Linked DNA regions of Homo sapiens. The protein of the gene in region 4 interacts with the protein of the main gene of each other region in a pairwise test. Each region holds a gene or a part of one and is shown on either strand. Other genes may lie near its edges.

What was found.
Region 1: the proteins of HNRNPC (region 4) and DDX21 interact in binary tests that used the Homo sapiens proteins (3 or more experiments, as listed by UniProt).
Region 2: the proteins of HNRNPC (region 4) and RBM41 interact in binary tests that used the Homo sapiens proteins (3 or more experiments, as listed by UniProt).
Region 3: the proteins of HNRNPC (region 4) and HNRNPD interact in binary tests that used the Homo sapiens proteins (3 or more experiments, as listed by UniProt).

Annotation. Positions count from the first base shown.
Region 1 is NC_000010.11:68,973,170-68,980,169, forward strand, and holds part of DDX21 (nucleolar RNA helicase 2), read left to right. Parts: intron 1-375; coding exon 376-495; intron 496-1,500; coding exon 1,501-1,574; intron 1,575-4,359; coding exon 4,360-4,519; intron 4,520-5,672; coding exon 5,673-5,807; intron 5,808-7,000.
Region 2 is NC_000023.11:107,115,126-107,123,373, reverse strand, and holds the start of RBM41 (RNA-binding protein 41), read left to right. Parts: upstream 1-4,551; 5' UTR 4,552-4,600; coding exon 4,601-4,608; intron 4,609-4,788; exon of another isoform or gene 4,789-4,830; coding exon of another isoform or gene 4,831-4,943; intron 4,944-6,607; coding exon 6,608-6,724; intron 6,725-7,129; exon of another isoform or gene 7,130-7,223; intron 7,224-7,319; coding exon 7,320-7,512; intron 7,513-7,817; coding exon 7,818-8,022; intron 8,023-8,248. UniProt on the Homo sapiens protein: May bind RNA.
Region 3 is NC_000004.12:82,351,410-82,357,797, reverse strand, and holds the end of HNRNPD (heterogeneous nuclear ribonucleoprotein D0), read left to right. Parts: intron 1-353; coding exon 354-485; intron 486-902; coding exon 903-1,002; intron 1,003-1,114; coding exon 1,115-1,261; intron 1,262-2,396; coding exon 2,397-2,464; 3' UTR 2,465-2,494; intron 2,495-3,643; 3' UTR 3,644-5,300; downstream 5,301-6,388. UniProt on the Homo sapiens protein: Binds with high affinity to RNA molecules that contain AU-rich elements (AREs) found within the 3'-UTR of many proto-oncogenes and cytokine mRNAs.
Region 4 is NC_000014.9:21,265,600-21,273,878, forward strand, and holds the start of HNRNPC (heterogeneous nuclear ribonucleoproteins C1/C2), read right to left. Parts: upstream 3,844-8,279; 5' UTR 3,699-3,843; intron 3,070-3,698; exon of another isoform or gene 794-3,069; intron 1-793. UniProt on the Homo sapiens protein: Binds pre-mRNA and nucleates the assembly of 40S hnRNP particles. Interacts with poly-U tracts in the 3'-UTR or 5'-UTR of mRNA and modulates the stability and the level of translation of bound mRNA molecules. Single HNRNPC tetramers bind 230-240 nucleotides.

The DNA.
Region 1 (7,000 bases), on a different chromosome or scaffold from region 4:
GAGTGACAGAGTGAGACTCTGTCTCAAAAGAAAAAAAAAAGACTAGATATATTGAGTTAAAATACATTAAGCTTCTTAAAGAAATCTTTTCAGTCTGTCTACTGGAAGACTGAAAATTGGAATTACATATATGCCTCTAATGGACAAGCACTATTTAGACAATGCTCTTTGTAAATTTGCCTGCAGGACAGGGACCATTGTTCTAGAAGCTTTAAAAATTGCCAGAGGTCTTTAAATTGAAGTGCTAAGGGACCTTCTCCCTCATGTCCCCAGGTTTATAACCACAATTGCTAGTGTTCACTGACCTGCATAGGCTACTCAGGTGTTTGTCTCTCTTTTTTGGTTTAGTGTTACTCATGTATTTTACTTCAATAGGATGTAGAGTCCTACATTCATCGATCCGGGCGGACAGGCAGAGCTGGAAGGACGGGGGTGTGCATCTGCTTTTATCAGCACAAGGAAGAATATCAGTTAGTACAAGTGGAGCAAAAAGCGGTAAAACTATTCTTACCTTTCATTAAGCAAATGTTGAGTTCTAAAGTCAGTCTTTGGTTTCTTCAATTTTTATCCACTTTAAAATATTTTTATTTCTAGTGTGTGGCAATGACTGAAAGCTTATTGTTAGGTACATATGTTGTCCTGTGATAAAAGGCCCATTCTGAAGTAACTTTGCATTTGAAAACAGTGATTTTGTTTTCATATGTTTGAAAGGAAGTTTTCAGACAATGATAAATATGAACCAGAGATAATTAAGATTGAGGGGCTGTAGGAATTGCTTGAAAATCAAATGAATGAGGGTATGTCAAAAGGATAAAGGGGAGAAGAGACTAATTTTTCCTCCAGGAGAATTGGAATAGTGTATGTAGATTCTTGCCCCTTCAGGAGCTTCACTCGTCTCCTTCCTCTTGAGTGGACTGCACTTAGGGACTTGCTTTCAAAGAATAGAGTAAGGTGGGGAGTGAGGACTTTACCGAGGAGAGATGAACAAACACTACCTGGGCCAGTTGATCGTGGGTCACATCATTAGTGATAGGCACATAGCCATGTGCCCCTGATAAGAGGTGGTAAGGCGAGCATTCACTTCGGGTATTCCTCCCCCAAATATGTAACCCTGAGCATGAGGAAAACACAAGACAACCTCAAACTGAGGGACATTCTACAAAACTGTTGACCAGCACTCCTTAAAACTGTCAAAGTCATGAAAAACAAGGAAAGAAGGAAAGACAGACATGGAATAAAGTCTGGGGTTTGATTAATAGTTTAGCCATGTTGGTTTCTTAGTTGAAACAAATATACATTAACAGTGTAAGATGTTAATAATAGCAGAAACCTGGAGCTCTCTGTACTGTCTTTGTAGCTTTTCTGTAAGTCTAAAATTAAAAGTTCATTTTTTAATGTAATACATACATTTGGCCTATATTAAAAAATTAGGGGACTGCTTATCTTATTGGAAACAATTGATGGCCACTGTACATTAAACTGTGGTTCATTTTCCTGTAGGGAATTAAGTTCAAACGAATAGGTGTTCCTTCTGCAACAGAAATAATAAAAGCTTCCAGCAAAGATGCCATCAGGTATGTTCCCTACCACTGCTATGGTCTGTTTTAGTGTTGGTTCAAATACTGCATGTCTTTGTACAGTAATAAGATTTGACTTAAAAAAATTTTTTTTTTAAAATTTTTGAGACAGGGTCTCACTATGTTGCCCAGGCTGGTCTCAACTCCTGGTCTCAAGCAGTCCTCCCAGCTCAGCCTCCCAAAGTGCTAAGATTACAGGTGTGAGCCAGCATGCACAGCCTATTCTTTTTAACTGATAACCTGTTTATCAAAAAAAAACCAGACCGTGCTGAAGTAGAATTTCACAAAGTGGATACCCTCGTTTCTACTCATTCCTGTCCTATCCTGTTTACCAGAGGAAACCACTATTAAAATAGTTTGCTTTGTCTAGGATATTTTAAGGGATAATATCTTAGGTATAGTATAGGTGCTTCTCACCCACTGGCTGATTAGACCACAGATTACATTCCAAATCTACATTAATCCAGTTCCTTCCCTGGTAGGATGAAAGTTGATTGCTTCGTTAATAGTAAATGTCTAGATGGTGAGGATTAGGTTAATTAACAGTTTGTCAAATGGAGGTGCTGCTGGCATTGGAGGCAAGAGAATTATTTTTTATGGGATTGTCCTGCAAATGGAAGGATATTTAGCTGCTTAGGATCCGTGGCTGATTCCCCTGTGCCACATACTCAGGGTAAGTAGGGTTGGCATTATAAAAACCAGAAACCATTTTCCAGATGCCTCCTGATGGTGACCTATGTTCTCTGTTAAAGAACCACTGAGTTTGGGCATCATTTTTATAGTAGTTTTCACAATTACTGTAAATGCTTATTTAAAAAACAGACACAGGGAGTCCATGATCAAAGGAAATCCTGGATGTCAATCAGCATATTAATAGTTCAGGAAAGTTTTGTTAATGAAAGAGTTTTGGGCCAGGCATGGTGGCTCATGCCTGTAATCCCAGCACTTTGGGAGGCTGGGGTAGGCGGATTGCCTGGGCAACACGGTGAAACTCCATCTCTATAAAAAATACAAAAATTAGGCCGGGTGCGGTGGCTCACACCTGTAATCCCAGCACTTTGGGAGGCCAAGGCGGGTGGATTACCTGAGGTCAGGAGTTCAAGACCAGCTGGCTAACATGGAAAAAACCCATTTCTACTAAAAATACAAAAAAATAGCCAGGCGTGGTTGCGCACGCCTATAATCCCAGGTACTTGGGAGGCTGAGGCAGGAGAATCACTTGAACCCGAGAGGTGGAGGTTGCAGTGGGCCGAGATCACACCATTGCACCCCAGCTAGGACAACAAGAGCAAAACTCTGTCTCAAAAAAAAAAAAAAAATACAAAAATACAAAAATTAGATGTGGTAGCAAGTGCCTGTAGTCCCAGCTACTCTGGAGGCTGAGATGGGAGGATTGCATGAGCCCAGGAGGTTGAGGCTGCAGTGAGCTGTGGTTGTGCTAATGTACTCCACCCTGGGTGGCAGAGTGAGACTATCTCAAAAAAAAGAAAGAGGGAAGGAAGGAAGAAAGAAGACAGGGAAGGGAGGAAAGGAAGGATGAGTGTATTTTTTTTTTTTTTGAGACAGAGTCTTGCTCTGTTGCCCAGGCTGGAGTGGAGTGGTGCAATCTCATCTCACTGCAAGCTCTGCCTCCCTGGTTCACGCCATTCTCCTGCCTCAGCCTTCCGAGTAGCTGGGACTACAGGCACCTGCCACCACGCCCAGCTAATTTTTTGTATTTTTAGTAGAGACGGGGTTTCACCGTGTTAGCCAGGATGGTCTCAATCTCCTGACCTCATGATCCGCCCGCCTTGGCCTCCCAAAGTGCTGGGATTATAGGCGTGAGCCACCACACCCAGCCTGGAAGAGTGTATTTTAACTGCATTTTTCAAATTTATTTTAGCATGGCATGTTTTTTTAAGTGTCCTACAGACAGGGTTCCCTTGGGTGCCAGTTAAGGAGAGTTGGGGTTAGATGGCCAAGAAGGGGAATGGGACAAAGATGCTGGTGGTATACAACAAACAGCCTCCAGCGTGCCAGCCCTGACACGGCTGCATGTCACTTTCTCCCCTTTTTACTGGATGATCTTTTTCAACTTTGAATGGGACATTTATTATTGCCAAGATAATAGTGACCCCCTTAAGAATGTACAAATAGTCCCATAAAGGTCCTTATCATTTTTTAAACTGACTTTGGAGGTCTTTTTCTTATTTCTTTTATTTTCTTTTTTTTTTAAAGAGACGGAGTTTCTTAAAATGATTGTGTGTGGCACAGTCATAGCTCACTGCAATCCTCCCACCTCAGCCTCCCAAGTAGCTGGGACTACAGGCATGTGCCACCACACCCAGCTTTTTTTTTTAAACTTCAGAATGGAAATAGGTTTTTTCTGATCCTAAAAGTAACACATGCTTCTTGTATAAAAACTCTTGACATAATTCATCATCACATCTAATGGTAGTATGACATTTTATTATGTCTGTTTTGTGGCTTATATAAGCAGCCCAAATGATGCACATTTTAAAATTGTTTGTACTTTTTGTGTATTATAAGTAACACCGTGGTGAACTTCTTGTTTTATTATTTCCTTAGGATAAAATGGTGGGGTAGGTGATAAATTAGAATTACATACAGTCAAAGGAATGGATTTATTACTATAGAAATATGATTATTATATACTGCATCAAAAATAAATATGTTACACATGTGAAAGATTTGGAAAGTTACTCATTTATCTTGAGATGTCTTAGAAATGAAATGTGTCCACTTCTAGTATCCTTTCTCCTAACACACTCTCAAACAACAGGCTTTTGGATTCCGTGCCTCCCACTGCCATTAGTCACTTCAAACAATCAGCTGAGAAGCTGATAGAGGAGAAGGGAGCTGTGGAAGCTCTGGCAGCAGCACTGGCCCATATTTCAGGTGCCACGTCCGTAGACCAGCGCTCCTTGATCAACTCAAATGTGGTAAGGTTCTGCAGCACATTCCTGACACTTCATAATTTGGGGTATGAGCAGGATATGAAAGGGTTTCATTTAAGCTTCCCAGTTGTTTTCATTTTCTCATGAAGTTAGTAAAGTATTAATTGTATTTTACAATTTCTGGCCAGACACAGTGGCTCATGCCTGTAATCCCAGCCCTTTGGGAGGCACAGGCAGGAGGATGGCTTGAGCCTACAAGTTTGAGATCAGCCTGGGCAACCTAGTGATACTCTGTCTCTACAAAAAAATAAAAAAAAAAAAAATTAGCTGGGCGTGGTGACATGCTGTGGTCCCAGCTACCTGGGAGGCTGGGATGGGAGGAGGGAGGATTACCTGAGCTCAGGAGGTTGAGGCTGCAGAGATCCATGATGGTGCCACTGCACTCCAGCCTGGGTGACAGAGTGAGACTCTGTCTCAGAAAAGAAAAGAACCAATAATTCCCATGTTTAAACACACACACACATACATGCAAATCCATAGAGGCAGAAAATATGAGTGGTCCTGACTGGCTGTGTGGAGGGAGGAATGGCAGTGGCTAGTAATGGATGCAGGATTCTTTTGGGTGGATTATGCCATGTTCTGAAATTTTAGATAGTGCTGAATGGTTGCAGATCTTACAAATATACTAAAACAAACAAAAAAAACACTGGATTATATACTTTCAAATGGTGAATTTTGTGGTATGTGATTTTTAATTGTTTTAATCCTAAAGTAGCCCAAACATATATATGCGCATAAATGCATATAATACATTTAGCCAGCATACCTAGAAACTTTAGAAGGTGTATGCTTTTCTTTTCCTGTAAATTCAAATTTTTATTGAGATAATTGTAGATTTACATGTAGCTGTAAGAAATAATACAGAGAGATCCTTTGTATACTCTGCTCAGCTTCCCTAAATGGCAATATTTTGGAAAACTATAATACCACAACCAAGATATTGACATTGGTACAATCAACCAGTCTTACTCAGAGTTCCCCAAGTAAAACGAGGGACTGTTCGTACTAATTGTTTGTGTGAGATGTATGTTTTTAGGAATAACTTTTCAAGAAATATTTTAGAATCACAAAAGCAGGTATTTATCAATTAGGTTTATTTTCAGCACTTTAATTTTATTCTCCTTTCTTGTGTTGTAAGGGTTTTGTGACCATGATCTTGCAGTGCTCAATTGAAATGCCAAATATTAGTTATGCTTGGAAAGAACTTAAAGAGCAGCTGGGCGAGGAGATTGATTCCAAAGTGAAGGGAATGGTTTTTCTCAAAGGAAAGCTGGTAAGGCTGGGGTCTCTGTTGTAACCTTGATGGGGCTTTATGTGGGCAGGAAAACAGTGTGGTGTGGGTTCTTCCTGTTCTGTGGGGATGCTGCATCTCTTCACTCTCTCATCTTCCCTGGGTAATCTCATCCGTGATCCTCAGATGCCACTCTGCCACTGACAACTACTGTACCTCTATCTCCAGCCTGAACCGTTCTCACAATGCCAGACTTGATCCAGCTGCTTCCCTGACATCTCTACCTAAATAGCTTATTTAAAGTAACTTTTTCAGAATCTTTTTTTTTCTTAGCAATGCTATTCTAGCACTGGACTTATTCAGAATCTTGAATTCAAATTAAAAATGAAAAAATTTGCCTCCCAAACCTGGTGTTCTTTCTTCTGAGGCCTTCTCTTTGTTTATGCCATAGACTATCACAAGGATTCTCAAACATTTTGGTTTCACAATCCCTTTAGCAAATGTTAGGGACCCCCAAAAGCTTTTGTTTACATGGGTTATATCTATTGATACTTACTGTATTAGAAATTAAAACTGGAACTCTAAAACACAATATCATGTTCCATTAGTCATCAGAGCAATGATTTTATCACGTCATATATGTCTAGGAAACTCCACTGTACCCTTGAGGGAATGAGTGTGGAAAGGGCAACATTATTATGAAAATAATTTTGACTTGGCGAAGCCCCTAAAAGATCTCAGGTTTCCAGGTTTCCATTGGCCTAGTGAACTAATCGGATTTATCTTCAACTTATTGCATGTCTAGCCATGTTGTTATCTCCTTAAGCAACTCCACAAAACTTGTGGGATAAAGTCTCAACCCTTTCATAGGAGGATAAGATCCTTCATGTCCTGGCCTCTGCTAACCTTACAGCTTAATTTCTACCTCATTGCTACCAACACCATTTACTCCAGCAGTGCCCAGTACACCATGCTTTATCTCATCCTCAGTGCATGCTGAACCTACTATTTATAGTAATCTTTCGGCTGGGCCCCGTGGCTCATGCCTGTAATCTCAGCACTTTGGGAGGCTGAGGTGGACGGATCACCTGAGGTCGGGAGTTTGAGACCAGCCTGACCAACATGGAGAAAACCTGTCTGTACTAAAAATACAAAATTAGCCGAGGATAATGGCGCATGCCTGTAATCCCAGCTACTCAGGAGGCTGAGGCAGGAGAATCACTTGAACCCGGGTG
Region 2 (8,248 bases), on a different chromosome or scaffold from region 4:
CGACCATCGTGGCGGGTACACATTACACGAAGAAATATTTTTGAAATGAATATTAGCAACGATTAGTCTTATGAGCAGACTAAATGCCAAAATTGACATGGACTCTTTTTTTTCTACTCAAACTTTTCCAAGCAGCAGCTTCTTATCCAGTAAGTTTTTGTAACCACGCAGAATTATAGAATGTGAAAATAATCCAGAACTCATATAATCTTGTGAATTATTTCTGTAGATACACAACTTTTAAGTATAATCTTTAGTAATCTCTAATTTTTCAGTTCAGTATTATTACTCTTATACTGTAGATAAGAGTAATACTAAAGACATTTTTTCCCATTGCTTTTGGAGATTCAACTCTTGTAAAGTAGCCTGTGTACAAGTTCTACATTCAGTAATGAAAATATAGTTTATCAGAAGAAACACTGACTCTAGTCTTGTTCCTGCCTAATTAACTGGACAAATAATTTCATCTTGGGCATTATCTTTGTCCATAAATGAAAGAGTTGGATCATATTAGGGTTTCCCAAACTGTTTTGTGAGAAGGAACTGGTTTTCATTTCTCTGAAGTTTTGAGATTCCTTTATGTCTTTTCACTGTGAGTAGAGTGCTTACTCTATATTTCCTAAGTAAAATAAAGAAAAAGGAGACTACAATACTGCTTATACTATCTTACTGTTACATTATCTTCAGTGGGAGTTCTAGTGTTTTTCCTAGTACATAGAAGATGCCAGAGGATAGCAACTGGCTTCTAGATTGATCTAGTAATGTTATTAAGACTTACAGGGTGATCTCAGTATACTGTCTGGAATTGTACATTGGACTAAATCATAAATCATCTCTAAGATTCTTCCTGACCATTTCTAACATGTAAAGAAATGACATTGTTGAACAATTTTTTTTTGTTTGTTTTTTGAGACAGGGTCTTGCTCTGTCACCTAAGCTAGAGTGCAGTGCCGTGATCTTGGCTCACTGCAACCCCTGCCTGCTGGGCTGAAGTGATTCTCCTACCTCAGCCTCCCAAGTAGTTGGGACTACAGGTGCACACCACCACACCTAGCTAATTTTTGAGTTTTTTGTAGAGATGGGGTTTTGCCATGTTACCCAGGCTGGTCTTGAACTCCTGGGCTCAAAGGACCCACCCGCCTTGGCCTCCCAAAGTGCCAGGATCACAGGCGTGATCCACCGTGCCCAGTCACGTTGACAAATCTTAATTAAAAGGTCAGAAATACAGAAATAAGCTATTTTTACCAGTAATGTTAAAGCATCATTTATGTTAGGCACTGGAGTCTTCAGCCCCTCGTAACCATTGTTAACCAGCTGACATATTAGCTGAAGAATTCTTAAATTTAAAGTGTTGACACTATCCCAGTACATACCCATTTTTTAATCCTTTGAAAAGATGCTATATTTGTTCTCTATAACAGCATTTATGCTATTTCATTTGGGAAATTTGAAAGACTTGCACAGTTGTTTACTCTTAATATAAGATGGTGAGTAGATTCAAGAGAAGATTTTTGGTTTTAACATCTTCTTCCATATCTTGGAATCATAACTGCTTCATAATGTAGTCTTCAGAAGCGTGCCACAAACAAAGCACCTAAAAAGGACAAACTCAGAAAATGTGTCTCTGTTAAGAAGGAGCTTCTGGATTAATTAAACTAACCTTGTTAAATTGACAGAAAGACAAATGAGGCATATTTTTCGGTTTGTCATAAATTCTTCTAGGGGTAAAATTGTGAAATTAGGTAAGATCTCTGTGCCCATGTATAACATCTAGAGATCTCCAAGGCTTTGTATACACTGTCTGATGTCCTTTTAAGCTGGGGAGAAGAATGTTGTGGGAAACAGAATAACTATTATTACACAGTTAACAAGTTTGGCAGAATTAGAAATGGCCTGGTTTTCTTTTTAGTGTAATTTTCTGAATGTTTGTCTGTTTGTACCTATCACTTGCGCTGGTTACAGTTATACACAGGTATGTAGAGTACTTCTTATGACCTTGCTTTCCAGTTGCAATTCCACAGCTATGTGAATATGTATCTTAGCTATTCGTTCTCCACTCATCCCACCTAGTGGATTTGCAATGTAGTGTGTATCATTTCAGTATCAATAGGCTATATGTTTTATTAGAAGTTGTACACAAGTTTGGTGTGATGGTTGGTGTAATATTTGTTCCATCCTTTGCCACCGTCCCAGGGGATAAGCACACTAGCAACCTTGGTGTATTTTTCCATTTCCTTGTCAATATGTCAATTGGGACAGATTGGTTGAGCCACAAAATTCAGCTCTACCACCATATAGGATTTACCTGGTGCAGGCAATGATGTGACCCCCCGTTTTGTTTATACTTATATTCAGTTCACGTTCTGTGCCAAAGCTACAAAGTGGTACATGCTATGCCTGCAGTCATTCACCTTTATGATTCAAGAGCACAGTTATTTGCATGTGACAGGTCTTAGGTAGCTCACCATGACATTTTCAATCTGATAGAAGTTCTCAGGACAGGAAATTCTACAATGTTTTTCAGTAGCTGCTTTTTGGTCCTTTGCTCTAACTTGAGCATGGAAATACAAAGCAGTTTGGATAAGTCTAAATCTACTGATTAACATTTGACTATTTACTCATAGATTACCACTCAATCATGGAATAACTTTAAAACCATACCTTTGTATGTGCTTGACAGTCACCCTATACTTAGGAGGTATCCTCATTTTACAGATGAGAAAACTGGCCTAGACCAGTTAAGAAACTTACTGAAACCCACATGGTCTAGTAACTTACCAGAGCAAAAATTCAAGTCCAGATTGCCTCTAAAACCCTGTCGTGCTATACTGTCAACTGAGAAGTGAGATTCAAATCCAAGTAGTGTGCCCCGCCCCCCACCATTACCTACAATCTTTTCTTCTTTGGCTTCTTGAGATGTAAGAGGGTTTCTCTTTAATTAAAAAAGTATTGACTAGGTAATGTAGTCATGGGTTCAAAATTCAAAGGGCACAAAAAGATACGTGAAGAATTTTTTCTGCCCTTGTCCCTCAGCCATCCAGTTCCCCTACCTGGAGGCATTCACTCATCATTTGTCTGTAAGTTCTCCCAAACATATTTTGTGCATATACAAGCAAACACACATATATATGTTTTTAAGTGACTAGAGCTCCCCTTTTTATGCAAATAGAAGCATAGTATACATATCGTTCTGCACCTTGCTATTGCACTAACTATATTTTGGAGATTGTTTAGTAGCAGTTCATAGAGAACTTTGTCATCTTGGTAACTGCTGCATAGTTTTTCATTGAATGATACATTTTCATAGTATGTTCTTGGATATTTTCATTTCTGTTTTCATAAACAATGTTGCAAGGAATGATAGTAGGTTAGAGGATATATAGTATTGAGGATTCTATTCATAACTGAATTGCTGCTTTAAAGGGAATGTACATTTATGATTTTAGTAGTATCCTCATTTGCCCCCAATAGATGTTGTACCAATTTATATTCCTACCACTAGTGTATTGAGAGCGCCCGTTTCCCCACAATCTCAATAAAACAAGTGTGTTATCAAACTTTTGGATCTTTCCCAATCTGTTAGGTGAAAAATGGTAGTTTAATGTACTTTTAAAAATAAACTTTAAGTTCTAGAACAGTTTTAGATACAGAAAGGTTGCATAGTACAAAGTTCCACATACGTACAACTCAGTTTCCCTTGCATAACTCTGATACATTTGTCACAGCTAACGAACCTTGTTATTAGCTAAAGAGCATAGTTTGTTCACATTTCCTTAGTTTTTACCTCATGTCTTTTTTTCTTTTCCAGGATCCCATCCAAGATACTGCATTACTTTAGTCATCATGACTCCTTTGGTTCCTTTTGGCTGTGACAGATTCTTGTGTTTTTGATGACCTTGCTAGTTTTAAGGAGTACTGGTAGTCAGTGTACTTTAAAATTTGTGAGATTGGACATCTTTTCATACACTTAAAGACATTTGCATTTCCATTTCTGGAAACTAAGAGCCTATGCTTTTAACCACTATACTATACCTCTTTCTTGATTCACCATAATTATCAATAAAACATATGTGGGCCTGAACATACACAGACTTCTGATTCTGAGTGGAGAAAACTCTCAAGTCTCTGTTACAGATAGAGGAGAACCATTAGTACAGGTGATATAGTCAGACTCGTGTCTGATGACTCTGGCTACATCGTGAAGGATGAAGCAGAGGCTCGACTGGAAACGGTAGGTAGGCTGGATAAATCCTTGAAAGAAAAGCAGTGTTGATAAGTTCAAAGGAAATTACAGAAGAGCCAGGAATTAGTGGTAATGGATGAGAGAATCAAGAAGTCAAAGGTGACTCGTTTTATGAGCTGGATATTTTGGGTCTTCTTTTGAACCTAAATGAGAAATTCAAAATAAATATTTGGACAATGTTCAGCATACCTGTCACTTGAGATCTACTTTCTCTTTCTGTTGCCATAGCTCTGTGCTACTACAATTCCCAGAGCCCCATGCTCCATCACAATACCCTTAGAAGTCCGCCGCGCGGAGTTCTGGGACTTGAGGTCCGCGGCCTATTTACCCAAGTTGGAGGTAGGGGCCTGTGGAAACATGAAGAGGTAAGGACTTGTCTGAAGAGCAGGCGGCAAGGGGAGCTTTGTTCTACCTTTTCTTTTGAAAATGGCTTCCATTGCTTTCTGGTTTGGGTATTGCACGTTCTCAGGATGCGGTTTCGTGGGAGCGGGAACACGACAAAGGAGACGGGAGGAGGGGAGACGGGCTGAACAGGCCTGCAGAGCGAAGTTCAGGAAGGGCTGCCACCGGGGCCGGCTGCTGTGGGAATGCCCTCCCGGCACGGGCCCCGGGAGCTGGCCGGGTGCTGCGGCTTCGTCGTTTCACCCGGACCCAGCTGGGCAAAAGGGTTTGAGGCTGACAAATTCCCGGCGCCGGAGATGTAGGTACCTCGGGCCAGCCCCTCGCCGTTCTCCCCTACCTCCACCTCCACCTGAGAAAGGCTCGGGGCGGGCGCATTTATTTGCAACGTCTGTGTGTTAAAGACTACTTGCTTGGGCCCCGAAACCATGTAGCGCTTTCGAATCTTAAAGTAAGGGAGCGGTACTTTGTTTCTAAATGTGGAAGGACAGCACCAAAGCGGTTCGATTTATGGGGTGGGGGGAGGGGAGGTGGAAGGCATTGCTGGGCTCAGTTCCCCTTACTTGTCCTGAGGTAAATGGCCGCTTGAGCCTAAATGGCCTGAGCCTCCTAACTATTGACGGGCTTAAATTAATTTTAGATTCACTCTGCAAGTAGAATCATCACTCTGGAATAGTGCAGTGCATTTAAAATTCTTACTGATATGCTTTCCTGCACTGTCAGTTCCTTGCATCTTTTAAAAAACCGTTTATGACTTTGCCTGCCTGAAACTAACCTTTAATATTTTTTTATGATATCTCCTCCATGCGAAATAATGTATAATGTATATATACAGCTTAAAGAATAATAAAGGTTCGCATCCACTACAAGCTTAAGAAATAGGACATTGCCAGTCCCTTAGAAGTCTACTGTGTCTCTTCCCTCCCTTCGTTCCCCCCTGAGGTGACCACTATCCGGAATTTTGTGTTATTAATTCCCTTGCTTTTAAAAAAGCAAATAGTTTCTAGTACATATGAATTTATCCCTAAACAAAATGTTCCTAGTCATGTATTTGAAGTATTCCTGATACTTCATGCTGGCGTTTCTATTGTAAAAGCTACTAGACTCAATGTGGCTAAAACAATACTGACTTTCCCTTTCCCAAATCATTTATTCCATCTGGAGCTTTGTCTTTCCTTCATTGGTACCATTGTTCTCTCAGTTACACAGACTGAAATTTTGGGATTATCTTTGACTTCCTTGCCTCTGCCTCCAAAAGGCCTCTCTCATCTAACCCTTTCTTTCCATTTTCACTATTACCATTTCAGTCTAGACCTTCATCACCTTTTACTTCAGTAGTTTCATAACTAGTTCTTCTTGTTTCTTCCCTTTGAATCTCTATGGCATATTATAACCACATTCATCTGTCTAAACCATCACTTGCACTGTGTCACTTAACTGTTTGATAAATTACTACTTCTTATTATCCTTCAGTATATATTACTATCCCTTTGTACTCTCTTTCCCTGTTCTCCTTTTCTGCATCACACACCTTTGAATGTCAGCTTAAAAGTACCTTTCTGAAGTCTTCCTTTACCACCTTTATCTCCCAATTTTCTCTTCTGTGAATTTCTACTAATTTGGCATATGCTTCTATGTGTTATTATTCTCTCCTCCCCCCGCTGCCAAGGCACATGCACACAACACATAAACACACACTTCTTCTCCCTAAATAGATTGTGGGCTTCTTGAGGATAGGGACTATGTCTTAAACACCTTTGACTTCCCTCAGTACCTAGCATAGTGCCTTCTGTGTAAACAGGTATTTAGTAAGTGTTCATGGACTAAATGGTAAAGGGCAATGAATTGTTGGAGAAGTGTCTTTGAATAAATGGGGTCAGTAATGGTAGATAATATAGATAAGGAATATATTTTGAGACTCACAGTCTCTTCCGTTTTCTGTATATATTCTTATGTCTACTCCAGGGTAAACAGCTGTGTGAAGAGTGATGAGCATGTCCTGGAGGAGCTGGAAACAGAAGGGGAGAGGCAGCTGAAAAGCCTCCTTCAGCATCAACTTGATACTTCTGTCTCCATTGAGGAGTAGGTATTGATTTTGCAAACGGAGAGTATCATAGACTCTTACCTCCAGGTGACAGATCTCTCTTAAAGCCTAGATGGAATGTTCCTCTCCCACCTCCCTTTCTTTGTTAGACTTCAATGTATTAGGTAGGGTTTTAATTCTGTGTCTCTTCCTCTGGGAAGCCTCCCATATCTCACTAAGTCTGAGCCAAGTACCTATTTTATGTCCTCCTACAGCATCCCATATTTCCCTTAACATAGCACTTGTAACCCAATATTATCATTGCCTGTTTACTTGCCTCTGTTCCACTGTTTTTCCACAAAAGCAGGAGCCATTTTTATCTTTTTTATAAAGCTATTAAATCCTTAGTACCTAGCAGAGTATCTGATGCATAGTAAGTACTCAATAAATATTTGTTGATTTAGTTTATTATTCCTGGATGACGGCACTCTCGATGGAGTTCCATTTTGTTGCAGTGGTGCTTCAGCTTAGAAATAAGATGTAAGAGAAAATTTGCTGGTGAGTTTCATTGTACCTCTTACAGTGCTGAACCTCCATTTTTGTGAATGATAGTAACCTCAAGATGTTCTTACTCTCCTCCTGCATGTTTTGCAGATGTATGTCTAAGAAAGAGAGCTTTGCTCCTGGTACTATGTACAAGCCCTTTGGGAAGGAAGCAGCTGGGACTATGACTTTGTCCCAATTCCAGACACTGCATGAGAAGGACCAGGAAACTGCTTCTCTCAGGGAATTAGGGCTTAATGAAACAGAAATCTTGATCTGGAAGAGCCATGTTTCTGGTGAAAAGGTGAGTGGGGTAATGTTTTTTTTTGTTGGTTTTTCTCCTCAAAGAAACAGAGCAAAATATCTTCATTTTAGCACTGAGAGCCTTTTCATTTCTAGTTCTCACAAAACTGAGCTTGGTGTCTGAATCTTCTTTGATTTTTAGAATGCAGACATTGGTAAAAGAGAAGCTGTTCTTTAACTTCTTAGCTAACACTTTCTGTAAACATTCATTTCTGGGCCTAGGTCATCTTTTTACTTGAGATACCAGATCATCATGTTCAGGTTGTGCCCTCTATGATACATGCCATCTCATTCCTCTGGTTTCAGAAGACAAAACTGAGGGCAACTCCTGAAGCAATACAGAACCGTCTTCAAGATATTGAAGAAAGGATCTCGGAGCGTCAGCGCATTCTTTGCCTGCCACAGAGATTTGCAAAGAGCAAACAGCTGACCCGGCGAGAAATGGAAATAGAAAAGTCTTTATTTCAGGGAGCTGATCGTCACTCCTTCCTTAAGGCTCTTTATTACCAAGGTATGTGATCCCCACTGACTTTGATATATTCTTTCACTGAGAGAAAGATTAAACAGCAGGGCATTAAATATGAAGAGTTAGTGAAGGGAATAGGGGAAAGACAAATTGTCACTACTTTTGAGAAATGTATAATACCATAAGAGAGACAAATATGTGCACAGTTAGTTGCATGACAACATGGAAACTGCTATTATAGAGATTTGAATAAAATGCTGAGGTAGTGCAG
Region 3 (6,388 bases), on a different chromosome or scaffold from region 4:
CACCCTACTTCCTGTTTTCTCTCAAATACATTTTTATTCTGTTTTTCTTAGATTTGACTGTTTTCTTCTTGTTCTTTGTGGGCATTTGAATTTGTGACCCTTGAGTTAGGTAGTAAATGTCAGTGCGTGGTAAAGCTTATTTTTGTAAATAGTTGTGAAGACCTTAGATGGAATGGGTGTTCTAATTTGAAGAATTCCTTAAAAGGATTAGAATAAATAGGGAGAAACAGGAGACTAGAACTTCAGTGCCAAATACATGTTTTCTTTGTGTGTTTTCCCCCCTCTAAACTTGTGTTTCTTTTAAGGTCAATAAAATGCATGTTAGCATATTAAAATTTGTTTTTTAATACCAGGTGGAATCCATAGAGCTCCCCATGGACAACAAGACCAATAAGAGGCGTGGGTTCTGCTTTATTACCTTTAAGGAAGAAGAACCAGTGAAGAAGATAATGGAAAAGAAATACCACAATGTTGGTCTTAGTAAAGTAAGTTAAGCATCCATTTACTTGTAGAGAAAACTAGCTGTTGTAAAGAGCTTAACCATTTATCTTTCTCTGTAAAGGCTTAAGTTCTTTGCATGCTTTAAAAACTTCTCATTGGTTACTTACCATTGACCAACTTTTTGTGGGGAGCAGGATGGACACATTTGTTAGTGTTTTTGTCTAGGCTTTCACAAAAATAGTTTTTAGAACTTGACAAGTAAAATGAAGTAACATCACTAGCAAGTACTCATAAGTGATTACTCTTAAGTACTAAATATTGGTTTAATTAATAAACTGACTGAGGAAAGTTTCAAATTAGCCTACTCTATTTAAACATGTTGGCTATTCTGGTTATTAGAAACTTATTTAGCAACTTTTATTTTCTTGAGTCAGTTTAATAATGTAATTTTTCTCTTTTAGTGTGAAATAAAAGTAGCCATGTCGAAGGAACAATATCAGCAACAGCAACAGTGGGGATCTAGAGGAGGATTTGCAGGAAGAGCTCGTGGAAGAGGTGGTGGTAAGCTAGAGCCTAAGTTTACTCTATCTTAAGCTTTTCTGCTTTTTAATTATCCTGAAGTAAAGATCTTTGCTGATCTTCTGACTTTAGTGAACCTATTAATGTGCTGCAGGCCCCAGTCAAAACTGGAACCAGGGATATAGTAACTATTGGAATCAAGGCTATGGCAACTATGGATATAACAGCCAAGGTTACGGTGGTTATGGAGGATATGACTACACTGGTTACAACAACTACTATGGATATGGTGATTATAGCAGTAAGTACTATACTTTTTATATTAACTGCTATTTGACATTTATTTTGTACAAATTTGGATAGGCAGAAAGGTTAGTGTAGCCTTGCCAAGTGCAAATGTCTTCAGGTTTCAAATTCCTGGAAACTTGAAACTGCAGCCATTTTATTGCTTGGTTCCTCCCAGCCTATATCACACACACATTATAAGGGTAGGGTGTATGTGTGGTTCTATATATGTTTGCTGGGCATTTGTTTTACTTGGATTTAAAAATTTTAAGCTCAGTTCAGATCTTTTAAGCTCAAGGTATTCTAAATGTCACTTCTTGGACCAACCAATAATCTTGGCATGATGTGTCTTAATCCTATAAAACTGAATAATACCACATGTTGCCAGTTAAAACTAATAGTATCCTCGCTTTAGGATTATTAATGTAGAAACTCTTAAAACAGATGTTGAGCTTGATAGAACCAAAAAACTTGACTTTTAGACATGGAAAGCCCTGACTTCATTGTGCAACTAAGGTAGTTGCTCTCCACCTGATTTGTAGCAACTGTTGAGTCGTCAGGTAAAGGGTTCTACTAGAAGCAATCTTACATTTTTTTGGAGGAGAGTGGTTGCATTGGTTGCATTGTTTTAAGTGGTTTTTCTTTTCCTTCCTTGGTTAGACCAGTTCTTGGAGTTATATCCTTTCTTAGGTGACTAGGCCTGCTGCACAATAATAGGTTAATTAAAGTCAGAAGAAGGTCAGCAAAGATGGATTGGGTGAGATTGGGGCCCTTTTCTTAGAAGGGCAGAGATACTAAGCACTGATTGTGGTTGACAATTTGTTCTAAATTTTAAGATATTTTTTGCTGGTGGTTGTGAAAGGGTCAGCTGTCCATCCTTTGAAACTTAAAACTTTTAAACTGTAAGGGTGAGGGGATTGTCTCCCATTTTATACAATAAGTCAAGTAATCAGCTCATTCTGAATGCCTGCCATTGTATGCATTCACTACATATTTGGTAAATTATTTGATAAATGATTGCTCAGGGTGAATTTTTCACACTTGGGAATTAAGCTACCCTTAATTTTTTGAGATTGTTTAAAATTAGGTACTGTTCTGATTATTAGTATGTAACCACTACCGTTCTGGTTCTAACACTTGTTTTATTTTAGACCAGCAGAGTGGTTATGGGAAGGTATCCAGGCGAGGTGGTCATCAAAATAGCTACAAACCATACTAAATTATTCCATTTGCAACTTATCCCCAACAGGTATGTTCTAAAAATAGTTTTTTTTTGTCATTTACAATAGTAGTTTTTATAATCTATATTGTTCATAAAACAATGCTTAATTTAAGAGTTTCACAGCACCCAGAAGTGCTTACCATATTATAACATAGTGACTTTCAAAGATATGTAACACAGGTGCTCTTAAGCTTTTGCCTTTTTGTCCTATTATTAACAAGTCAGTAAAGTTAACAGGTAAAGTACTGCTAATGGGTACAAATTAAGGAATTGCAGCAAAAAAGTATTGCCTACTAACTCTGACATTATACCTTGTTTGTACCCGCCAGCGGGAACTTCATTGCAGGCCCTGTGTCGCGCTGACTTCACGATTCTCACAGGCCCGCTCAATGCGGACAGGGTACGAGATGCTCACGCTCTCGAATGCTGCCGTTTGGTATGGTCTCTTCCAACATCCTGTATCAGCATTATAAAATAAAATGGATACTTCAAGCTTTGCCTTCACTTATTTCTTTGCTTTTTAAAAACTATTTGTAATGTAATTTTAATGCATTTTTTACAGGCCCAGTAATGGTTAAATACGTCAGCTTACTGAATAATTTTAACTATTTATTCTTCTAAGGATACAGCTTGTCTCTGGATTTTCCAGTCTTAATTTTATATTTTATTAATCTATTTTAATGCTTGCTTTTCCCATTTATAGACGTTGTAGCAGTAATTGCAAGAAGTTCTTGAGCTGAATTCCTGTTGTGACAACTTCCTATAATTACAGTAGATAACTTTTTCTTTTAGTCGTATATAACTTTTCTATAACTTGTGATGGACAAGAGATATGCTTATCCAATAAAATAAGCTTAAATATTAGATGCTCTTGGGTCAAAATGTCCTTTTACCAAATTGACCTTTTTATGAGTTCTTTGGGTAAATACTTTAAAGCTTTTTATATTTTAAAGAATACTTGTAAAAGCATATCACATCTTAAACCAGTGGTGCACATGTGGATTTACAGCTCATGGACTCTACTGTTCAGCTTTAATTTATAAAACATATCACACATTTAATGTTATACAGTATTTACATATAGTGGAACATAGGGATAACTCAGTTTTATGTAAATTTTTGTTAAGTGTTGTAGCCTGCCCAGAGTGACTTCTATTTTTTCTTCTTTGTCTCCAGGTGGTGAAGCAGTATTTTCCAATTTGAAGATTCATTTGAAGGTGGCTCCTGCCACCTGCTAATAGCAGTTCAAACTAAATTTTTTGTATCAAGTCCCTGAATGGAAGTATGACGTTGGGTCCCTCTGAAGTTTAATTCTGAGTTCTCATTAAAAGAAATTTGCTTTCATTGTTTTATTTCTTAATTGCTATGCTTCAGAATCAATTTGTGTTTTATGCCCTTTCCCCCAGTATTGTAGAGCAAGTCTTGTGTTAAAAGCCCAGTGTGACAGTGTCATGATGTAGTAGTGTCTTACTGGTTTTTTAATAAATCCTTTTGTATAAAAATGTATTGGCTCTTTTATCATCAGAATAGGAAAAATTGTCATGGATTCAAGTTATTAAAAGCATAAGTTTGGAAGACAGGCTTGCCGAAATTGAGGACATGATTAAAATTGCAGTGAAGTTTGAAATGTTTTTAGCAAAATCTAATTTTTGCCATAATGTGTCCTCCCTGTCCAAATTGGGAATGACTTAATGTCAATTTGTTTGTTGGTTGTTTTAATAATACTTCCTTATGTAGCCATTAAGATTTATATGAATATTTTCCCAAATGCCCAGTTTTTGCTTAATATGTATTGTGCTTTTTAGAACAAATCTGGATAAATGTGCAAAAGTACCCCTTTGCACAGATAGTTAATGTTTTATGCTTCCATTAAATAAAAAGGACTTAAAATCTGTTAATTATAATAGAAATGCGGCTAGTTCAGAGAGATTTTTAGAGCTGTGGTGGACTTCATAGATGAATTCAAGTGTTGAGGGAGGATTAAAGAAATATATACCGTGTTTATGTGTGTGTGCTTATTTGTTTGAATGATTTTATTTTCCATTTCTCAAAGGTTTTATTTTTTTGGTTAGGGCCTTAAAATTTCAGGACTGTGATTATTAGTATGTGTGCCTAAGGAACTTTTTGAGTCACTCTTAAGAAAGTGAAACTGAAGAGTCTAAGTGATAACTATAGGATTAAGTCAGAATTGTTTTTCCTGTCATTTGTTGGAAGCTTCTTGAGTTCTGTTATTAGCATTCAGGGAATTGATACCCATCAACTTGAATGGAAAATCGTTTGTAGGTATTACTTAAGTGAATGTTAAGAGTTCCACCCTGAGTGGTAATCTAAGGCTGTGCAGTCAGTTACTTCAGACTGCTCAGAATAGTTCATTAGAAAGGTAACAAATGAGAAATGTATTATTATACAGTTCTATAGTAGTGAAGTGATGGAATACCTTTCTTACTTTTGTGGAGTTACATCTGATGCTAAGAATTTGACCTCCAACTAAGCAAACATTTTAATGAGCAAAAGTTAGTGTTATTAAAGTTTTTTTATGATAGATCCAAATTGAGGACCTGTGTCCTGTTTTTATAAGATTGCAACCCAGCTATGCTCATTTGTTTATGTTTTGTATATGGCTGCTTTTGTGTTACAGTGGTAGAGTTTAGTAGTTAGGACAGAGACCTGCAAAGCAAAATAATTTACAGTCTGGCCCTTTACAGAAAAGTTTGCTGACTCATGGTCAAAATAAATGAAAATTTTTTGTGTTAGGGTTGTTAAGCTAGGGTTCTTTTTGGTATCATATGCTTATTTTATGTAAATCTCTCAATAAAAAATTATTTTTAAGAGACAGGGTCTCCCTCTGTCGTTCATGCTAGAGTACAGTGGCTCACTGCAGCCTCCAACTCCTGGGCTCAAGTGCTCCTCATTAGCCTCCTCAGTGATTGGGACTACAGGCGCATACCACTGTGCCCAACTAATATTTTTATTGTTTGTAGAGACAGGGTCTTGCTATGTTCCCCAGGCTGGTCTTGAACTCTTGGCCTCAAGCAATCCTCCTCCTCCTTCGGCCTCCCAAAGTGCTGGGATTATAGGCATAAACCACCGTGTTCGGCCTTCACATCAAAAACTTTATAAATGTGCGGGGAGGGGGTAAAAACAGATTGAATTAAAACCAGGTTTAGTGTGACTAAAAACATGCTACCAGATTAATTTTGATTGTTGTGTTAAAATGTTTACAAGCTGCACTTTTGGCAGTTAATTAGTACTAAATGAGAGACACTACTTAGATTTAATTTTAAGGATTAATTTTGGAGATCAAACCCATTCTTGAAAAAAACTTGTAACCCGATTTTTGTACTGTTTTGTTTCTGTATGTCTGACTCATTTAAATTGCAATTCTCAGAGCCGTTTCTAGCAGTACCTCTTGGCCTAGATAATTTTCTGTCCAGCAGACACTGATTTTCAAACGGTAACAAGAATTGAAAAAAGATTTTTTATATACATTAATTTGGTAATTAGTTTCATGTTTTTCTTGATGGTTTTCTGTGTTCTAATCTGAACTGTTTGCCCTTTTTGAATTGTTGAGTAACTGTTGAGTTGGGGCTTTGCCATTGTTCTGGGTTTCCCTTTGCCTCTCAATTTATGATCTGTTTCCTAGATCTATGGCTTTGTTGGTTTGGTGTAGGATATCTTCCAATAGGTTAGAGACCTTCCTGTCTGTAAAGTTCTATTTTGCATTGGATTACTAAGTTTAGCTATGTAGAGAATTCAGGTTTGGTGAAGAAATTTATTTTATTTGTTTTTGAGACAGCATCTCACTCTGTTGCCAGGCTGGAGTGCAGTGGTGCGATCTCAGCTCACTGCAACCTCTGCCTCGTGGGTTCAAGCGATTCTCCTGCCTCAGCCTCCTTAGCAGCTGGGACTACAGGCCTGTGC
Region 4 (8,279 bases):
AGGAATTCAAGGCCAGCCTGGCAACATGGCGAAACCCTGCCTCTACCAAAAATACAAAAAATTAGCAGCACTACTCAGCAGGCTGAGGGCACCCCTTGAGCCCGGGAGGCAGAGGGTGCAGTGAGCTGAGATGACACTACTGCACTCTAATCTGGGTGACAGTGTGAGGCTCTCAAAGAAAAAAAGTATCCTTACCTAAAGCTCAGAGATAGTTTTAGAAAAAAAGTATCTCTAGGTTATTCTTTGTCAAAACCTGCCTGAGGTTTGGATCCCTTCTTCTAAAGGGGCACCTCTCAGAATGAGTGATGCATGAGCATCATCACCTGGAACTTACTAGAAGTGCAAACTCTCAGGGCCCACCCCAGACTTACTTAATTAGAAACCCTTGTGGTAGAGATCATAGCAATCTGTTTTAACTAGCCCTATTGATTCTGGTGTTGGCTAACGTTTGAGAACCACTGTGAAGATTTTAAATTGGGAATCTCTCTATTCCCCAGTTTAGAATCAATTATTATCATTTTTTTGAGATGGGGTCTCACTCTGTCGCCCAGGCTGGAGTGCAGTGGTGCGATGGCTCACTGCAACCTCCACCTCCCAGGTTCAAGCGATTCTCCTGCCTCAGCCTCCCGAGTAGCTGGGACTACAGGCGAGCGCCAGCACGCCAAGCTAATTTTATTTTCAGTAGAGATGGGGGTTTCACCATGTTGGCCAGGCTGGTCTCAAACTCCTGACCTCGTGATCCACCCGCCTCAGCCTCCCAAAGTGCTGGGATTACAGGCATGAGCAGCCACACCCGGCCTTAGAATCAATTCTTTAAACAAAATGCCTGACCTTCCAGTGTACTGTGACAGAATCAAGTTAGAGCACCAAATAATGTTTTCCTGATACAATATAAATAAATCCAAAAACACATAACCTATGATAGTAAATGTACCAAAGAAACCTTTTTTCCTTTTATGTTAATAAACTCAAAATTTCCAATATCGAGAATACCTGTAGTTATGCTACACCTCAAAGTTCTGGTTCTCACCAATCCTCTAGTAAATCTAGTATGCACAAAACCAAAACCTTCCCATTTCCAATGAGAATACATGAATATGCATATTAAGAGCAAATAATGCTCCCCAGAGACAACTACTAATAAAGTACTTGAAGACTGAAATAATGTGGTTAAGAATAGTAATAATAACTACCAATTTAGAAAACCGGGGCCGGGTGCGGTGGCTCACGCCTGTAATACCAGCACCTTGGGAGGCCAAGGCAGGAGGACTCCCTGAGCTCAGGAGTTCGAGACCAGCCTGGCCAACACGGTGAAACCCCGTCTCTACTAAAAATATAAAAATTAGCCCGGTGCGGTGGCACACGCCTGTAATCCCAGCTACTCGGGAAGCCGAGGCAGGAGAATCGCTTGAACCCGGGAGGCGGAGGTTGCAGTGAACCGAGATTGTGCCACGACATGCACTCCAGCCTAGGGCGACAGAGCGAGACTCCGTCTCAAAAAAAAAAAAAAAAAAAAAAAAAAAAAAAACAAAACTGCTTTTAATAAAACTCAATCTGTACAGTTTTTAGGCTTCTGGCAACAAAAAATTTGAATTAGAAACTAAAAATTCAAATAGGTTTTAAAAAAAAGTCTAAGTCCCCTTATTTGCCTAAGGAGGATTAAAATCTATTTCTCCTAACTCCTAGGCAAACTTACTCCCCAGCCAACACCTCTCACATTCAACACTTTATTAAGATTTAATAATTTGCCCCTTAGTCTTTAAAATTAGAGCAACTAGCTATTTTGGAGTTTATTCTTTGCTTGTTTCGCACAGCCATTCCATCCAAAACAAGGTCGAATGCCATGTCAAATCCTCTAGAGATTTAATTACAAACGTAAGCTGTTTAAATTCTCTACAGAAGGAACATCAACCACCAAGTATTCCCGAGAGTGGCACTAGCATGAGGGGGAAAAAAAAGGTCAGAAAACCTGCAACCTGGCCATCCTTCTTCAACTTTTCCCCCTAGCCAATATGAAAATGTTACTAAACGCCTATCTAGTTGAGAACACACCTAGAATTGTGATATAAATACCGTGGCAAACAGTTTCGGATATTAACTCAAAGAATTTTTGGTGCGCTGATATACATACTGACCGGAAGGAACCCATTTTCGAAAACCTCAAAGAAAAGTGCCCGTCAATCAATTTCAACTACTATTAACAGTTCTTAAATACTAATTTCTGACATTTCTCCTTGCCAACATTTTTACTTCATGATTTCCCATTTTTACCCTAACCTCATTTCTAACAGTTCAGCACAATGATAAACTTTAGTTTTAAGTTCCTGTAATAATATACATGTTTAAGCCTTAAGAAAGGGGTCGCGATGTTTTTGACCCTTATTTTACTTCCTATCAAATAGATTGCCTTACAGATGAATTTCTTACCCTGCAGAATGGGTTTAAACTGTGCTTAACAGCTTTAGTTTTTGTGAGATTAACAGATTGTGAAAAATAAACTTAGCCAAATCTCATGTGAGGATTAAAAAAAGCGATGTCCCAGATAAGTCAATGTGACACTAAAGATCTAAACAATTTTTTTTAACTTTTAAGTTTTTTATCAAATTTCAGCACCCAGCAAATAATAGGCACTGTTAATATTTGCTTAATATAACGTAGCTGTGAATTTTTGCCCACATTTAGGCGGACGGGAAAATTAACGCCAGAATATCCCGAAAGTCAAATTTTGTCATCTTACACTTAGGAAGTTACGTTAAAAAATTCTCAAGTCTCGTAGTATTTTTCTTAAGCGCAATTTGGGAATTTCCAGTTACCTCGTGGTTTCCGTCATCAGGTTCTTGGCAAAGATTGCAATACAGTAGTTTTAGAACTATATTAACTAGGTATTCCATTAACTAGGTAAAAACCACTCGACTGACCTCGTGGTCAAATTCCTTACTAGTGCTGCTACTGACTTAATATGACCCTAGCAACCAACACTTTTCTGCCTCAGTTTCCGTCTGAGAAAGAGAGTTAATACCTACCTCAAGCAAAGTTCCACTAACTTATATATTTCAAGTGTTTTGTAACCTGCAGATGAAAAGTCAGCTGTAAATATTAATATAGTTATATCACAATATTTCCTTTTACAAATGTAAGTGAAAATAACTACTTCGAGCTCCATCATTTGCTCATAGAGAGAAATAAAATAAAAAGTTATCAGTAAAATGCTGAATCTTTTGTTAAACCTTTCTCGTAGGCCACGCGGCACGATCCAGGATTTAAAGGCTCGCGATACATCTACTTGGTAACCTTCCCCCTTCCCCTCCCCCACTTTTTACATGTAAGAAGAACGGAGGTAATAGAAGGCATCGGCGCTACGTTAACTTCGACTATATTAATGAGCATCACGATCTTCATTTTCATGATCCCGTAGTCCTCGCGGTCGTAGAAAATGAAAGGAAAGCAGCCGTTAACACAGGAAGAGCGAAAAAAGGACATTTTCCCTGGCGATCGTGGCCTAGAGGACACCAGGTTAAACCTATACAGAGGCTGAGGCCTATAAAACTGCCCCCGGCTTCAACCTAATCCCCCAAAACAAGCAGAATAAATGAGGGCCCGGTTAGTTAGGGGGAAGGATTCCCACATCTTCTCTCCCACACCCCCTCTCGCTTCCCGAAAAACCCAGCGCCTTCCCTGCGTCCGCCCTCTCCACTTACCAAGAAGGGGAGGGAGAAGAGATTCGATTCTGAGTCTCCTACTCCCGGGTTCTGCGTAGAGAAGCCGACTGCTGCTGGAGGTCGGCAACGCGGCCACAACCGCTCAGTCTTCGTCTCTTCACAAAATGGCCCCCGAGTCTCCTCTGCCGCCGAGGCGAAGGCCTAGTCCCCGCCCCATTCCTGAGAATCTTCCTATTGGCTGTGCGTTTTTTCGCTCCCGCTCCTAATTAGACAGTTCAACCGCTCCTCACAATGATATCCAATCACAATTAGCAGTGGGTTAGACTAAGCAGGCGAATTTCCACATGCGTGAGAGAAACTAGTTTATAACTGGTTAGTTTTCCTGTCATTTATTGCCTGGAGAATGCTTATTGGCTATTGCACGGGACGACCCTCTGGGTGGAAACTCGCCTTTGTATCGCGCACCGTCTCACATCCGGGTATCTGGGAGGCCTGATTGGCGGCCGCGGCGTCCTATCGCTGCCCCTTAGAGTGCCTAGTAGAAGATCCGCCCAGACCTCGGATTTCCGGCTGCGCGGGGGCGGGGAAAGGGTTGAGGGGCGTAGTTAGGTGACGGGCGCAAAAGACCTGCCCCAGCCCCGGGCCTAGGGAAAAAAAAGCGCGAAATGAAGCCTCCGTTGTGCAATGTGAATAAAGAAAGGACTTTTCTTAAAATGAGGAGGGAGCAGCAGTGACTAGGCCTTGTTAAAGTGTGTAGAAAACTAACCAGTCCTGCAGTTTTTCCAACCCCAGACCCTTTCTCAGTTCCAGATTCGAATGTCAGCTACCTCGTAGACATCTGCTTCTTGGCCTATTAAACCCTTCTTCAGACAACACATGTTCCATCGAAACCAACTGACTTCCTTATTCCTCTCCAATATAAAAAGGAAGTGCAGAATCCTGGCCTCTGGCCCCAGGGCATCTAATATCTTAAGTGCCAGCAAAATTGGCCCATCCTTCCAAATCTGGTCCCTTAATTTCCCTCCTCTTGAAATGGCTTGTCTCCTACCTACCCCCGTCACCTGCCAGTCTCTCTGGTTACATTATAGGAACTGCGCACGCAGTGGGGTAGCATCAGCTCTACTAAGCCAGCGGTTTCTTTTTTCTTTTCTTTTTTTTTTTTTTTTTTTTTTTTTTTTGAGGCAGAGTCACTGTCGCCCAGGCTGGAGTGCAGTGGCGCGATCTTGGCTCACTGCAACCTCCGCCTCCCGGGTTCAAGCGATTTTCCTGCCTCAGCCTCCTGAGTAGCTGGAACTACAGGTGCGCGCCACCATGTCCAGCTAATTTTTGTATTTTTAGTACAGATGGGGTTTCGCCATGTTGGCCAGACTGTTCAGGTGATCCGCCCGCCTCTGCCTCCCAAAGTGATAAGATTATAGGCGTGAGCCACCACGCCAGACCACTTTAAACTATTTTAAAAAGCAAAGACGAAAAATATGGGAGAAAGTATACACTAAAGTGTTAGTAGTGGTTCTCTCCTGGTGGGAAAATTACATGTGATTTTTTTTTTTAACTTTTTTTTTTTCAAACGGAGTCTCGCTTTGTCACCAGCCTGGAGTGTAGTGGCGCCATCTTGGCTCACTGCAACCTCCGCCTCCTAGGTTCAAGCGATTCTCCTGCCTCAGCCTCCCGAGTAGCTGGAACTACAGGTGCGTGCCACCACGCCCAGCTAATTTTTGTATTTTTAGTAGAGACGGGGTTTCACCATGTTGGCCAGGATGGTCTCCATCTCTTGACCTCGTGATCCGCCCGCCTCAGCCTTCCTAAGTGCTGGGATTACAGGCGTGACCCACCGCGCCCAGCCTTAAAATCTTATTGTACTTTTCTATATTTTCCAAATCATCTACTTTGAGCAAGTAATCAGAGGGAGAATATCCTACGAGTGCTTAAAGCCTCGACTCAATTGCCACATTGCAATTTATTTAAAATTATCTCGTAGCACTGTGGGTAGTTTTACACTCCTCTCCCTTCCTGGATGGTAAGATTTTTTGATGGCAGAGTTTAATTCTTACTCTTCAATATATTTTCCTTGTTTACTACCTATTAATAAATTAATAAAATATTAACCATTAACTTTTATTTATCAGGGGAAATTTTTATTTTTCCAGGACAAGCAGATAGACTGTCCTTTTTTTCTCTCTCTTTCTTTTGAGATGAGGTCTTGTTCTGTTGCCCAGGCTGTAGTGCATTGGCATAATCCCGGATGATTACAGCTTCAACCACCCAGTCGCAAGCAATCCTCCCACCTCAGCCTCTGGAGTAGCTGAGACCACAGGTGTGCACCACCACATTGGCTAATTTTATTTTTATATTTTGTAGAGACAGCGTCTTACCATGTTGCCCAGGCTAGTTTTGAACTCCTGGGCTCAAGCATTCCTCCCTCCTTGGCCTCCCAAAATGCTGGGAGGCACCATGCCAGCCCTGTCTTTTCTTTCTTTTCTTCTTTTTTTTTTGAGACAGAGTATTGTTCTGTCGCCCAGGCTGGAATGGAGCGGCGCAATCTCGGCTCTCACTGAAAGCTCCGCCTCGCCGGGTTCAGGTCATTCTCCTACCTCACTCAGCCTCCCGAGGAGCTGGGACTACAGGCGCCCGCCACCGCGCCCGGCTAAATTTTTTTTGTATTTTTAGTAGAGACGGGGTTTCACCGTGTTAGCCAGGATGGTCTCGATCTCCTGACCTCGTGATCCTCCTGCCTCAGCCTCCCAAAGTGCTGGGATTACAGGCGTGAGCCACTGCGCCAGGCCCTGTCTTTTGTTTGTTGTATGTTTTATGTAGCACTTACTCAGAGAGGCCTGGAGTCTGTCGGGTCTGGTTGACATGTAATTTATGTTATTATTATTACTATTATTTGAGACAGGATCTCACTCTGTCGCCCAGTCTGGAGTGCAGTAGCACCATCAAGGCTCACTGCAACCTCGATCTCCTGGGCTCAAGAGATCCTCCCACCTCAGCCTCCTGAGTAGCTGGGACTACAGGCGTGTGCCACCAGACTCACTAAGTTTTCTAATTTTTGTGGAGATGGGGTTTCACCGTCTTGCCCAGGCTGGTCTCAAATTCCTGTGCTCAAGCAATCCACCGGCCTGGGCCTCCCAAAGTGCTGGGATTACAGGCTGACCCACGTCTGGCCTCTTGACTTAAGTAAACAAAACTGTCTCAAAAATAAAATAAAATAAAATAAAATTTTATAGAGCTCTCTCGTTTTAGCTAACACTGCTTTATACTTTTTTTTTTTTTTTTGAGATGGAATTTCGCTCTTGTTGGCCAGGGTGGAGTGCAACGGGGCGATCTCGGCTCACTGCAGCCTCTGCCTCCCAGGTTCAAACGATTCTCATGCCTCAGCCTCCTGAGTAGCTGGGACTACAGGCATCCGCCACCATGCCTGGCTAATTTTTGTATTTTTAGTAAAGATGTAGTTTTGCCACGTTGGCCAGGATGGTCTTGAACTCCTGTGCTCAAGCAGTCTGCCCGACACACCTCCCAAAGTGCTGGGATTACAGGCCTGAACCACCGCACCCGGTTAATATCTTTTTTTTTTTTTCCTGAGACCGAATCTTGCTCTGTCACCCAGGCTGACGTGCAGTGGCGTGATCTTGGCTCACTGCAACCTCCGCCTCCCACGTTCAAGCGATTCTTCTGCCTCAGCCTCCCGAGTAGCTGGGATTACAGTCGCCCACGACCACGCCGGGCTAATTTTTGTATTTTTAGTAGAGACGGGGTTTTACCATGTTGGCCAGGCTGGTCTTGAACTCCTGACCTTAGGTGATCCACCCACCTCGGCCTTCCAAAGTGCTGGGATTACAGGCTTGAGCCACCAAGCCCGTCCCCAATATCATTTTTAAAAACCAATCCCCTCTTCAAGACATTGAAGTTGTTTCCAGTTTTTCAGTATCATATATCAATTATTTTATTATTTTATTTATTTATTTTTGGGGGGTGGGGGTGGGGATGGAGTTTCACTCTTTCCCCCAGGCTGGAGTGAAGTGGCACGATCACAGCTCATTGCAATCTCTGGAGCGGTGGCTTACGCCTATAGTCCCAGCACTCTGGGAGGCGAGGTGGGTGGATCACCTGAGGTCAGGAGTTCGAGACCAGCCTGGCCAACATGGTGAAACCCTATCTCTGCTAAAAATACAAAAAATTAGCTGGGCGTGGTGGCAGGCGCCTGTAACCCCAGCTACTTGGGAGGCTGAGGCAGGAGAATCACTTGAACCCAGTGGGGTGGAAGTTGCAGTGAGCTGAGATTGCGCCATTGCACTCCAGCCTGGGCGACAGATTGAGACTCCATCTCCAAAAAATAAATAAATAATATGAACAAACAGGCAAAAAAAATCTTTGATCACAGTCCAAGTGTGGCGGGCCATGCCTGTAATCCCAGCACTTTGGGAGGCCGAGTTGGGCGGATCACCTGAGGTCGGGGAGTTCGAGACCAGCCTGGCCAACATGATGAAACCCTGTCTTTTCTTAAAATACAAAAATTAGCCAGACGTGACGCGCACTTGTAATCCCAGCTATTCGGAAGGCTGAGGCAGGAGATTCATTTGAACCTGGGAGGTGGAGGTTGCAGTGAGCCAAGATCATGCC